3 separate regions of the Homo sapiens genome follow, and all the other regions are linked to region 3. Evidence: fine-mapped expression QTL. A gene starts in region 3. Each other region holds a variant in brackets. All regions are shown on one strand. Distances are from middle to middle.

Region 1 (4,241 bases), 110 kb after region 3:
AATCATCCATGGAGGAAGGGGAGTAGTGAGGGATGTTAGTAAACTTGAACACAGTATATTGCCTCCTATAGCCTCTCACCAAATCTACTCTTTTCCTTATTCTGGAACTGTATATCACACCGCAATTTTTGTCATTGGAAAGGTTGGTAATTTGGAAAATGCAATTTTCCTCCACTTTCTCTGCCTTGGTCATTCCCACAGCAAGGAGAATGAATATTGGATAAAAATCGGGTACCACTCTGGTTCCTCTGCTTTTCTGCCTGCCATGTTCTGTGGTATCAAGTTGAGCCTAAAGGAAGAGTCCTCTTCTGCCATGGCCCCAGTACCCCTGGATCTTACCTCCCTTGAAGAATCACTGGATGGCATTTCAGGGTAATCTCACTTTCTTTTGGGGAAATGTCCCTCTTGCCCAAGGTCTGAGGATATGTTGTTAGTTTTTAGTGTTCTTCCTCATTTTGGTCCAGATTTCACAGCATTTGGCAGGTTTGCTACATAGTTTGTGGTTTAAGATTGCAGTCGTATCCTTATTTCATTGGCAACTAAAATATTTTTCTGTTTTTAGTTTGAGATTTTTCAAGAAGGGGAGGGTAAGAATTAATGCCTATACACCGTGATCCTTAACCAGAAGTCATTTTGTGCTCTTTCAACTGCATTCTGCAAATTTGTATTCCACAGTGCAGGAAAGATCGTAAGTGCCATTCACCCACCAGGTTTCAGACTTAGGTCTGAATTCTTATAAAGCTTATTTAAATTTTTGTTTCATAGCTTTGCATCTATCACTTTTCTTCTCCATTCTCTTTGACCTACCTCCAGTCTCCAGAATTTTGTGTTTGTTTTGTTTCATTTTGCCTTTCAGTGTACCTGCAATATTCTGTTTCCCTCTTTGTGGCAAGAACTTTCTTAGTTCTTCATATCTTTAGCTCCTCTAAGTTAAGCTGCAAAATTGTCTGGCCTCAAACAAGTAGTGGGTTGATAAGAACCACTACCACTGCAGTCACCACACTTATCCTCACCTCTGTTAATCAAATATTTACTGTATGCCAGTAATGCCACTAAAGCTTGTCCATCTCCTGTCTCTATCTCCTTACCACATTTTATTTTTCTGGAGAATAGTATTTACTACTACCAAATATAATATTATGCATTTATTTTTAGTCTAGCTCTTCTAGTAGGATGAAGCTTCACAAGGACAGGGATTTTATCCGTCTTATTCACTACTGTATCCATGGTGCCCAGTACAGAGTTGTGTCATCCTTCCAATAACCCAAAAAAGCCAATATAATTGCCTGCAATTGAAATGCAAAGATGTGAAAAATACCTTTTACTAAAACTGGCTCCAGAATTATGTTGAGGGTTGCCACTGTATTTGTTCAAGAAAATACTTTGAAAGATATTTTGGGGGTGGTTGAGATTTTGTGATGTCAAAAGAGATGGGGGCAGGAGAAAAGAGAAAAAGTTGTTGTTTTGTTATTGGAAGGAAAAGGTGAGAGAAATAAAAGAAGAGGAGAGGGAGCCAGAAAGTTAGAGGCTAGCCCTGAGAAAGAGCCAAAGAATTCCTAGCACTGCTGTATGGGAGCCGTCAGCCCTGTACCTCCTGTACAGGTTGGCTGTTTTCCTCTCAGGTCTCTCTTCAGCCCCAAATCTTCAGCTCATCTGCTATGCACACAAGTCCTAGGAGGGGGTTTCTGTGGTTCTTATAAAAGGGTCTGGGTTTCCCATTGCAGTCAAAGCCTCAAGAGACAAAACTGTATATATGGGATCGGGAACTGGGAAATCTTTGAGAGGCAGGGGTTTGGGCCTTTTTTTTTTTTTTTTTTTTTTGAGACGGAGTCTCACCCTGTCACCAGGCTAGAGTGCAGTGGTGCGATCTTAGCTCACTGCAACCTTCACCTGCCTCCCGGGTTCAAACAATT[G/T]TCCTTCCTCAGCCTCTCGAGCAGCTGGGATTACAGGTGCGCACCACCACTCCCAGCTGATTTTTGTATTTTTAGTAGAGACAGGGCTTCACCACATTCACCAGGCTGGTCTCGAACCCCTGACCTCAAGTGATCTGCCTGCTTGGGCTTCTCAAAGTGCTAGGATTACAGGCGCTAGTCACCTCGCCCAGCCAGACTTTTATTGGCTACAGGATTGTAGTGAGGGTGATGGTTGGGGAGATGCATTAGTGCAATATTTCCCTAATTTGAGAGCGGAAGAGGCCACAGTTGACATCTGAGTTTTATGTAGGTAAGGAAAATGAGAGTCAGAGAAATTACACTACTTTCTTAAGGGAACTTAACATATAGAATGACTTCTTGCTATTTAATGAACACACCCAGTTCCTTTCCGCTCAGGAGATTTCCTCTTACTACGCCTGCAATCCAGAATGTTTTCCCCCAGATCTCTGCATTGCCAGCTCCTTCTTACCTTTAAAATCATCTCCCCAGAGATACTTCCATTTCCTATAAAAACAGTCACCATGATACCTACCCCTGACACACACTCAATCTCTATCTCCTTACCACATTTTATTTTTCTGGAGAATAGTATTTATTACTATCAAATATAATATTATGCATTTATTTTTAGTCTAGCTCTTCTAGTAGGATGTAGCTTCACAAGGACAGGGATTTTGTCCGTCTTATTCACTACTATATCCATGGTGCCCAGTGCAGAGTTTACAACATTTAGATGGTACTCAATAAAGATTTGATAACTATCCTCAATAAAAATGTATTGCCCTTCTATGATACAGGGTATAGTCTCTTGACTTTGTAATTTCAACATTCAAATACAACCCAGTCCACTCTTTTCTAAGCTAGTCATGTAAACCACCTGTTTTCTTCAGAACTGAGACACTTATGCATTATACCTGTTCTCACCAACAGCTGTGTCTGCTTATTGGCTTACTTTGAAGACAACTTTAAGGAGCTCTTGTTAAGAACCACTGCTACTTCAGTCAAATACTGGTTATCTCAGAAATGGTCTTTTCTCCTGTAGAGAGCTCAGAGCCACTAAGCAGGCCTTCTAAAGGTTCCTTCATCAGGGCTAAGGGAGCAGTGATTCTGAGAACACAGCAGTGTAGGGAAGTGCTTGGAGGGTCTCTGCATCCAGCTGGGTCAAATCTCAGCCCCGTGACCTAGGCAGTCACAGGATCTTCCTTGAAGGTCAGTTATGAAGAAAAACTTGTCAAGACCATGGTGAAAACAGCATAGCAAGGGCAGAGGATCCAAGTAGAACACCTGGTGAGCTGACCAGCTGAGAAGGGACTCCTGATCGGAGTTTTAATGAAAAACCAAAGCATGCATTGAGGGAACAGATGGCAGTCTTGATGGACAAGGAAAGGAATTCAGATTGGACACTGAAAGCCATGGTGGACTATAGAAAGCATTCATTCCACAGGCGGAGTAACCTAGGCTGAGCCAGGTCCCTGTCCACACTTGTTAGGTGGGTAAACTCAAGCCAGCTTCATCCTATCTGAACGCATGTTCTCATCTGTTCATTGTGATGCTGGTAATCAAAACCTATAGATTCAAGGAAAGGCTAAACAATGACAAGTAATGTTTGTGAAATGATTCTAAATTATAAAGAACTTTCCTAATGCATATTGCTGATGTCTGGGGCCAGTAACCTGGTGGTGCAATAAAGAGCTCCAGGCCGGATTAGAAAGACCAGGGCTTGAATGCCTGCCCTGCCACCTATTAACTTTATGGCCTTGGGCTGATTATTCCCTCTGAGACTTGCTCTTTCATCTGTAAAAGGGAAATGGATACTTGTGAGGATTCGCTTATATCTAAAGAGACTAGTCAAGCACCTAGCACATCATCTCCACCACCACCACCATTGTCATCATGGCCAAGGTTAGTTTAAGCACTCACTGTCTGCTGCATTGTTCTAAGAGATTCAGGTGCATGTAGGTAGATATTGTTATTCTGAGGCCTAGGGAGGTTAAGTAATTTACCCGAAGTCACAGATAGGAGTGGTAGAGCTTGGATTAGGACCCAAACAGTTAAGCACAGCACATGGGGGTAGTTTTTGACAATAGTGCAAATCTGCTACCAACGTAGGCCAATTTTTAGAAAGTCCCTTTGTGAAATAACAGACTGTCAGAAGAATTCATGGTTTCTAAAGAATTTGATCATGGAAAAGAGAAATCCCTTAGAATGGTCCCTAGATCCTTATCACCTGCTATTTAAAAAAAGAGTTGATTCTGCTAGAGAATATGTAATTGATTCCACTTCCAGGAAGAAAGGATGTTGAATTAA
Region 2 (4,241 bases), 97 kb after region 3:
GGAAATGCCTGTCAATAAAGAGTGGCCATCTCCCCTGAAAGCCGTGCAGACCCAACACGGTAGCCAAGGGCCACTATTCATTGCTCTCTCACCCGAGAGGTCTCTTGAAGAAGGATGCAGAGTTGGACCTCGAAATCAGTCATTCAACACACGTCTAAATATTTTCTAGCAAGGTAAACACTCTCTCAGGCATCTTACCTTCATATAGCTTCATTGCATGATAAAGTGATTCTATCTCAGGAAAAAAAAAATCATGGATAAAAAGAGAGACTTGCATGTTTAGACTCTTGTCATTAACAATGCACACAAAGAGCTACTGTGATCACCGGTGTTACCTGGACCAAAAAGGGGTAAAGAGGGCTGAAGTGTTTTATGAGTTAGCCCATTCCTTGATAACTTCAGCTTTTAAGTTTTGCCAGCTGCTGCCAAGCTGGAAAATTAGATGCATTGTATTTCATTATGTTTCATTCATTAATTCAACCAATGTTGCTTGGGCACCCTCTAATGAACTTAATGAGTGTGGCCAGGTTGTGTGAGTAAGGCAAAGATGAATTCCCTGCCCTGGGGAGCTTGCAGTCTGGTAGGAGACAGAAGTACCCCAAACGAAGGTTCTAGAAAAGCAGGGCCAAACACAAAGTACTAGCTGCTGTCCAGGAGTGGAGTGGAGTCTGGACCGGAAGATGATGACAGTATTTGAGTCAGGTTTTACCAAAATACTTGTATTACTGGTAAGCTCAGTGTGCATTCTCTGGCTAAGCCCTGAGAGGTAGGGAACTGGAGTCCTGTGAAAGAACCTGCTTCCCTGCCACTGGGGCCCTGCACCTCCCTGGTCTCTAGCAGATGCTGCCTCTCCATTCAGCACAGAAATGGGAAGCCTACCCCTCTCCACCAGATCTCACAAGACCCCTCATCAGTAGGGCCCCTTCAGCCTCTGACTCACCCATTCCAGTGCTCAGTCTGAGGTGCCTGTGGGAAGAAAAGACCCATGGCTGGGTGGGTGCCTATCCTCTCTCTCTAGACTCAACACCACCTGCCTAAGCACAGACTCTTCCTTGATCTAAAACAAAAAGCCCCCATGTACATCCATTCTTTGAAACAATGCCTGGGGCTAGGGAAATGATCTCCCCTAGAGTGACTGTAATTCATCATTCCAAACTGAGAAACTGTAGAGAGTGGCAAATGCAAGCCGGAAGGGACTCTAGAACCATAGTCCTAAGCCAGGACCATCCCAGGAAAACAGATCTTGCAACCATTCTTGTTCCCAATTACATCCAGTCTCTGCTGGCCCTGCCACAGGCTCTGGGGACTCAGTGCTTTATGGGTGCTGCATTTACATTTGCTGGCCAAGAGATGCAAAATAAAACCATGGTCAAATTTCAATTGCCTGCCTGGAAATATAAGACCAGTACCCAGGAAGTGGAATAAAGAGCTGGTTTAGGGGTTTGAACTTCCACCAAATTGACTCAACCACCATGTAACCGGAGGCCCCAGTTTTTGGGACATAGCTGTCTATAGTCTGATTGGTGGCATTTTTCAGGCAGAATAAGGAAATTATATCAGTCAAGAATGCATTTGTCCTAATTTGTACTGATTTGCTGCTGCCCGTTCAAAGGATCTTATTTAAGACCAGAGTAATTTGTTTTCTGTGCTGCCTTGAACAAAACTCCTCCCTGCACTTGAGCGTATAATATTTGTAGACATTTGTCTTCAGGCTAGTGCAGTAATCTTCCTTGTATGCAACTGGGTTTTCTCTGAAAAGACAGTTGTTTAAAGTTCAGCCCAACGTTTATTGACTTTTTTTGTGCTTGTATCTACAGAGAAATCATAGTCACTGGTTTGAACGGACTAATCAAGACCTATGAACTGCTGTCTGCACTAATATCCACTTTCCCAGAGATCAAAGCCACGTGGCTGGGGAGACAGACTTTCAGCTGCTTTTCTTGCATCCTTTTCTGATCAGAGTGATTTATCACTTGAATGCCATCATCGGGTCACAGGCTTTTTACTTCAGATATTTGGTATCAGACTGTTGAGTATCAGATGATTTAGCATTTGAGTTTATGCTTAATCT[GTCTT/T]ATAAACAACCCTGTGATTTAAAAGAAAATGAAAGCCTCTTCTATGAGGAAAGCCTTGTCTATGGGACTCTAAGAAATGGGAGGAGGCAATATTTAGGAAATCCAGTAGGCCTCATTTAATCTCTCCTTCCTTTAACCCAGGGATAGAACAGCATGTTGTGATGAGGACATTCTATCCCTGAGCCAGGATGAAATGGTGCAGGATGAGGGCATTGTTCCTCACTGTGCAGGAAGGAAGAACAGGGATCATTTGCCTCCATTTTTCAGAGATTCCTGGCTCCTCTTGACCCTGAACTCCCCATTGTATTTTTGGGAAGAATACCCACAGTACTTCCACAGACAGAAAAACCTCGAGGGCAAAGCCCAAACGTTATGGTTGCTATGATCTCTCTACTAACCTCAAAGAATAAACTACAACATTCTAAGCATATGGATCTCTATGTGGCCCCTGCCAGGAAAATTGTCTGTTCTGAATCTGGTACCAGCCCTTCAAATCCAGAAAAGCTAGGTCCTAAGGTGGTGCTGAGCATGTAGAAGAAGGGTTGCAAACCAGCTTTCCTAGTTGCAATGACCACAGATCCTAGGGACCTCTTCAGTGTTAAGTTTCTCCCCAGACCCCACTGCTGCCCTGGGGGTTTGCCGGATATCGCTTCTTGCATCGAGGGCTGCCTTCTCTCACATTTGCCCTGCCATTTGATGTCCCAAATCTTGAACAGGCCTGCCTGGCCTCACCTTGATAGCACCTTCACCATAGTAAGTATTCAGTATCTGGATTGGCAGACCACCAGGCGGACCCAGTGAGATTGACTGGTACCCAGTAGCAGCTCAATCCATACTCCATGAATGAATGAATGAATGAATGAGGATTGAAGGAAGTATGAAATTCCAGCCATGCTTCCCAGGGGAGGGTCTGCAGCCCTGACTCAGACAGAGACGGTAACAGGAGCAGTTTGAACCACCCATCACCACTCCAGCCTGGAGGCTCTATGGGAAGAGACCAGGAGCAAGGGAGAAAGAGTAGGCCCTTGCTCTGGACAGATCCTCTAGTGCTGCTGCTGTAGGGCCAGAGTAAGGACCCCTTGTGAGGATGAGAAAGGAAGAAGTGTCTCCTCCACAACCCGGGCTAAGTCCAAGCAACCTCTGCATTTCTTCATTCAGAACCTTTGCTCAGCCTAGGATGTGTTGAGGACATAATGAAGTGATGAGTGCTCCCCTGACTCTCAGGGGTCCCAAAGGGGTCATCTGTGGTTTGATGATCCTCCTGGCTAAATGGTTCCTACAGCTGTTGCTTAGGTTCAGAAGAAAAGCGGCTTCCACATACCCATACCTCATCTGCTAGAATTAACAACATTAAAAGATAAGGCTAGTGATGTCGCAGCCTCCGGACAGATCATCCCGGTCAGTCTACCTTAAAGATGGAACTTCATGGAAATGAAGGGGTGGAGAGGAGTTGTATGAAACCAGACATCTTCTGAATTCTGCAGAAAATGCTACGGCCAGATTCACCGTACAGAGTCTGATAAATGCCAGAGGTGAGAGGGGGGTTTGGATGTGGTCACAGTCAGTCATAGGGCTGCAATATAGCCCCTATGTCTCTGGCTTTTTTAAAGGTTAATTCACAAAACAAAAAGTCCAGAAGTGTGCCTGGTAATGACAGGAGCTCAGTAAATAGTTGTTGATGGAGTGACCCAGCATGTCTCTAGCTGCCCGTGTACTGGCTGTGTAGAGCCATTTTCCTGGAGGCCGAGGCAGATCTGAACCATGACTTGAATCCACGCAGGTGGTGATGTACACATGGCAGCCTTTCCATTCCACTCATCCATAGCCTGTGTTGGCCAGAAGAGAAGCTCTGAATAGTAACTTCTCTATATTTTTGCTGTTAAAAATAACAAACTCTGGGCACTAGATCAGGAGCTATTTCTTTCCTTGTAGACAAGTAGGTCCTGCATGGAGAAGCAAGTCTCTTCTGCCCAGAGGATCCATAGTCAAATGCTTGCAGGGGAGATTATATTCTAGAAGCTCTGAAATAGTCAGAAATGCCCCCAGCCTCTCTGAGGGAGGGATTCATTCCAACCCAAAAGGATGTCTCTATACAGGCTCGTGTGAGCACAGGGTAGCTAAAGGTGCCTTGGGCAGCAAGCACCTGCACACCTGGCAAGGGCTATG
Region 3 (4,241 bases):
ACATAAATAATTATATATTAAGTTCATTGTATTCTCCCTATAGGCTGCTTAAGAATACAATAATATAAGATAAAAATATGTGTACATGAACTTATATTTATCAGTAAGTACTGGGGTATAAAATTGTCTTTCCCTCTTTAAGCCCTAATGTTCATTGACGCGTTAACAATGAGTCACGATTTTATTTCTTGACAGTAGATGGCGCTGGTGATTGTCAAAAGAGACAGAGTCTCCCACACCCCTCTCCTTTCCTGAGCCATTGAAAAACAAAACAAAGAGCTGGTGGAAAAAAAACGCAAAAATTTTCATCGTAATGAAGGATTGAAATTAAAAATTTGGAACCGTCATGTGATTAAGCAGAACGTGTATATGATCCACACACTTTTATTTGGAACTCTAGGGAAAACCTCCTGAGCTATTTGTAAAATTTCATTCTCAGGATTAAAACAAAATATAGTAAAATTTGATTATCCAGACAAAAGATGGATTTATATTTCTCTATTAGACAGATTTTATTTCTGCACCTTAATTTTAGCAAGGGATGAATATTAAGACAACTATGAATTTAGTTGACAAAAAACTCACATATATCTGACTTCCAGAGTCCTGAAGGTGGTATAGAGGAGTATGGTAGTCAAGATAAAAACAAAACAAATTATTATATGACCTTTGAGTATATCACTTAATGTCTCAGGACAGAAGTTTTCTCATTTGTAAAACTGAAATATTTCTTGCCTAATTCACATGGCAGTTGCAAGGATCAAATACAGTAAAGTAGTATAAACACCTTGAGAATTGTCATGTTCTTTCCAAATATGCTTTTTTTCATCTTTACCATACAATCAACCCAACCACCTATAGGTAAAATCATAACACAAGGAAAATTGGAATTCAGAATAAAATACTTGAGCATTAAATTTCCTCATTGGTCCAAAAGCACTTTAATAGGCTTTGGTGAATTAGATTCGTGCAAGAAAAGGGACTAATGTATTTTCAACCATCAAAGGAGTGTTTAGCTTAATAATCAGCTACCCAGAAAATGAAACAGAAAAACACTTGAATCCAAAGCACCGAAGTGAACTGAAGCGGCCTCCACTGTCCTCCCCTAACTGTCCGCACGGCCTGTCCTCTGTAGGAGTGTCCTTGTGTACGTGTGGAGGTTGTGGACACACATGCCTAGGGTTACAGATGCTCTACAGACTTAACTCAGTATAGTGAAGCTGCAGAGATAGTCATAGCCCTAAAGAAGCCTATCTGAGAGCTTTCCTTTGGGTTTTACAAGAGGCATAGATATTTATTCTGCTCTTCTTTTAACAAAAGACTCCCAAATATTTGCTGAAGATGTAGAGTATTGCCATTTCTGCTTCAAAAGCTCTGAGCCTCTCACGGCACCTGTTGCTGCTGCCCCAAGAGCGGAACACACCCTCCACACCAGCAGCCCCAGGACTAGATTCAGCTTCTCAGTGAACCACTTCCATGCTCCACGATGTGCTCTGGGCTTTGGGGACTTAAAACATCGCAGCCGCGGCATAACAGAGATGCGTCAGCTTCTAAAGTCGTAGTGGGCAGTTCTAGAAACCTGACCCTTTCTTCTGCTGCTACAGATTCTATTGGCTTCTGGAGATTCAGAGACGTCCTTCCTCAAGAAGGAACCTCTGCCTGGCCTTCAGCAGGGCCACTGTCATGTGCGATATTCACTTAGAGCCTTATCACATTTGTGGCTGTAGAGGTGTTTGCGTGCCTTGTTTAATTTATCCCACTAGACTGTAAGTTCAGGGCAGATGGGGGATGTCTGGTTTTTGTTTTTTTTTTTTTTGCCTAATACTGTGTCCCCATGCTGGGCACAGACCTAGCACAGAGTAGGTGCTTGGCAAAGAGCTTTTGAATGAATGAATGATTGGCTGTAGTCTTCCTGGGAAAGGGCTGGCAGGCAAGGAAGTGTTAAACCAGCCACTAACCGCCCAGGCTGACCAGCCTTCTCCCTATCTCCCAGGCCTTTCGAACGGAGCCCGGGGAGGACAGGCTGGCAGAGGAGGGAGGAGGGTTTCTAGCTGAGAGAGACTGCGGCTGTGGGCCTGCAGCCTACCCCTCTTCAAGCTCTCCGGAGCCGTTCCTGCGAAACCAGCCCCCACAAGTGAGTGTCTGCGGCCCCCTCCCTCCTCTTTCCCTTATTGCTCCCTGTGGGGATGGGGCTGACACCGAGCTTGATCCTAAGTAAAAGTCTGTTCTAACAGGAAGCAAATAATGTTCCTCCCCTGACGGAGGTGTTTCCTTCTCAAAGAAGTTACAAAGGGCTCTTTTCAGAGAGAAAGGGGCTGGGAATAGTGTGTGGCCTCACTGCCGTCTGCCTTGGGTGGAGCCAGCACGTTCTGGAATCCAGGGGCTTCCTCTTCTAAAGAGGCGCCGGGCCATGCACTGAAACGGGGTGGCCCATCCTCTGGGAGCCCCAGTCCCCTTACCTGCTTGATACAAGCATCCTCTGGAAGTGCCTAGGGTCATTGCCAAGGCCCCTGTTTTCTTTTCTTGGCTTCCAGGACGCCGTAGTCTGTGTTCTTCCTCCCGCCCTGCAGTTCCCTAGCTGGATTCTCTTCCTCGCTGTGATCTCTTCATCCCTGGTTCCCCAGCGCTCTGTCCTGAGCCCCCTTCTCGAACCACACTCTCGTCTGAGTGAGCATATTGAGCTTCATGGCTGTACATTTCCTCCCCGTGCCGAGGAATCCCACACACTTAGTTCCAGCGCCCAGCTCGCCCCCACCTCATCCAGGTCCTTACATCCCCCTGCAGACTCTGTCTCCACTCCACCTCATTGGTGTTTCCCACTCACTAGATCTAAAGCCAAACTCTTGATCCTGACTTCTCCACCCACCAGCTTGCCTTTCTCTTCATCTTCCCCATCTCAGAGAGCGGCTCGGTCCCGAACTGTCTCTTTCCTTCACACCCTTCATCTAACACACAGCAAGGCTTCTCAGCTCTACCTTCAAAATCTACTCCTCATCTTTCTTCTTCCCACCACCGCCACTCAAACGCCCTCGGCCTAGAGGGATCAGACCCATACTACCTGGCTCCTGAACCTCTGCAAGAGTCTCTGATCTTTCTGCTTCCACTCCTGTCTTGCTACAGACTATTCTTCTGACAGCAGCCGGGGTGATCTTTTCAACTACCAGACCGTGTCACCTTGCTTAAAACCAGCTGGGGCTTCCCTCACACGCAGCATGACACTCAAACTCCACACGACAATCTAACCAGCCTCACCAACTGTGGCCCTGGCTTGTCCTTCTGACTTAGCTTCTGTCTCAGCTCAGGCTACACTGGCCTTCTTGGTATTCCTCAGCCCCCCAGCTTGTCACTGCCCAGCCTTTGCACTGTGTCCTCTCTCTGGAGTTCTTTCCCTCAGGTCTTCAGGTGGCCTTGCTCTCGGGCTTTCTGGAGAGACTTAAAAGCCATATCCATGGAGAGGCTGAGTTTGGCCACCTACCTAAGGTAGCCTCTCATCACTCTCCATGCCTTCGTCTGGCTTTCCTTTTGATTGAGCACTTGTTACTACTTGTGTTCAGCTCTTAGATGAGGGCACAAGGAACTCTGGCGGGTTTAAGTAGAAGAAGGATTTATGTGTAGACTTTGACAGCTCCAGGAATGTTTGGGAAGGCTTAGTGGTTTATAGCCAAGAAGAGTGCACGCATTGCACGAATTGGTGGGATCTCTGCTGCCCCAGCTGCCACTGGTTATGTCACCAATGCTACCGTCCCAGATACTAACACTGCTGGAACCCGCTGTCACCAGCACCCTTGGAATCCCCATCTTTCTGCAGCTGCTGCCATCTCCTATGAGGGCTTTCTCAGTCTCTTTGTCCTTGAGTCATTGGTTCCTAACTCAAATTGTGGGCCAGTGTGTCTGGCTGGTGGAGCCTTGGCCACAGGCCTTGGCTCCTTCTACAAGAGAGGCTGATAAAACCACTATCAGGCATTTTCAAATTCTATGTAATGGACCATGGGCTCTGCTTATCCACCAGATTCCATGAGGTAGGGAATCTCAAACATAGGATGGAGGTTCAGATTCTGGGTAACCAAAAAACAACGATAAGCATGCCCTTGACTAGCTGGCTTTCTAGTATATATTTACGTGTTTATGTGTCTATTGCCTAGCTACTACATTAGAATGAAAGCTAGATGAGGTCAGGCACTTTGTCTTTTTCCCTCTGTATTCCGAGAGTTCAGAACAGTGGCTGCACAGAAGTGACCCTT

The links. PIP is the estimated chance that this variant, and not a neighbour inherited with it, causes the effect. A credible set is the group of variants that fine-mapping cannot tell apart.
Region 1: its variant is the best candidate, but not a certain one, in a credible set for the expression of PIRAT1 in whole blood (TOPMed, PIP 0.73).
Region 2: its variant is the best candidate, but not a certain one, in a credible set for the expression of PIRAT1 in whole blood (INTERVAL, PIP 0.56).

What each region holds. Positions count from the first base shown.
Region 1 is chr2:37,758,643-37,762,883 of GRCh38, reverse strand. The region is part of intron 2 of LOC107985869 (a long non-coding RNA gene); the gene reads right to left. Among named protein-coding and RNA genes, the nearest start is that of CDC42EP3, 89 kb to the right of the region's middle. The variant G/T (reference allele first, on the strand shown) is at 1,914.
Region 2 is chr2:37,776,934-37,781,174 of GRCh38, reverse strand. All of the region lies in intron 2 of LOC107985869 (a long non-coding RNA gene), which reads right to left. Among named protein-coding and RNA genes, the nearest start is that of PIRAT1, 97 kb to the left of the region's middle. The variant GTCTT/T (reference allele first, on the strand shown) is at 2,072.
Region 3 is chr2:37,873,636-37,877,876 of GRCh38, reverse strand. PIRAT1 (PU.1 (SPI1) induced regulator of S100A8 and S100A9 alarmin transcription 1) reads left to right here and starts at 2,014. Exons shown (of 4, transcript NR_110012.1): 1 at 2,014-2,134.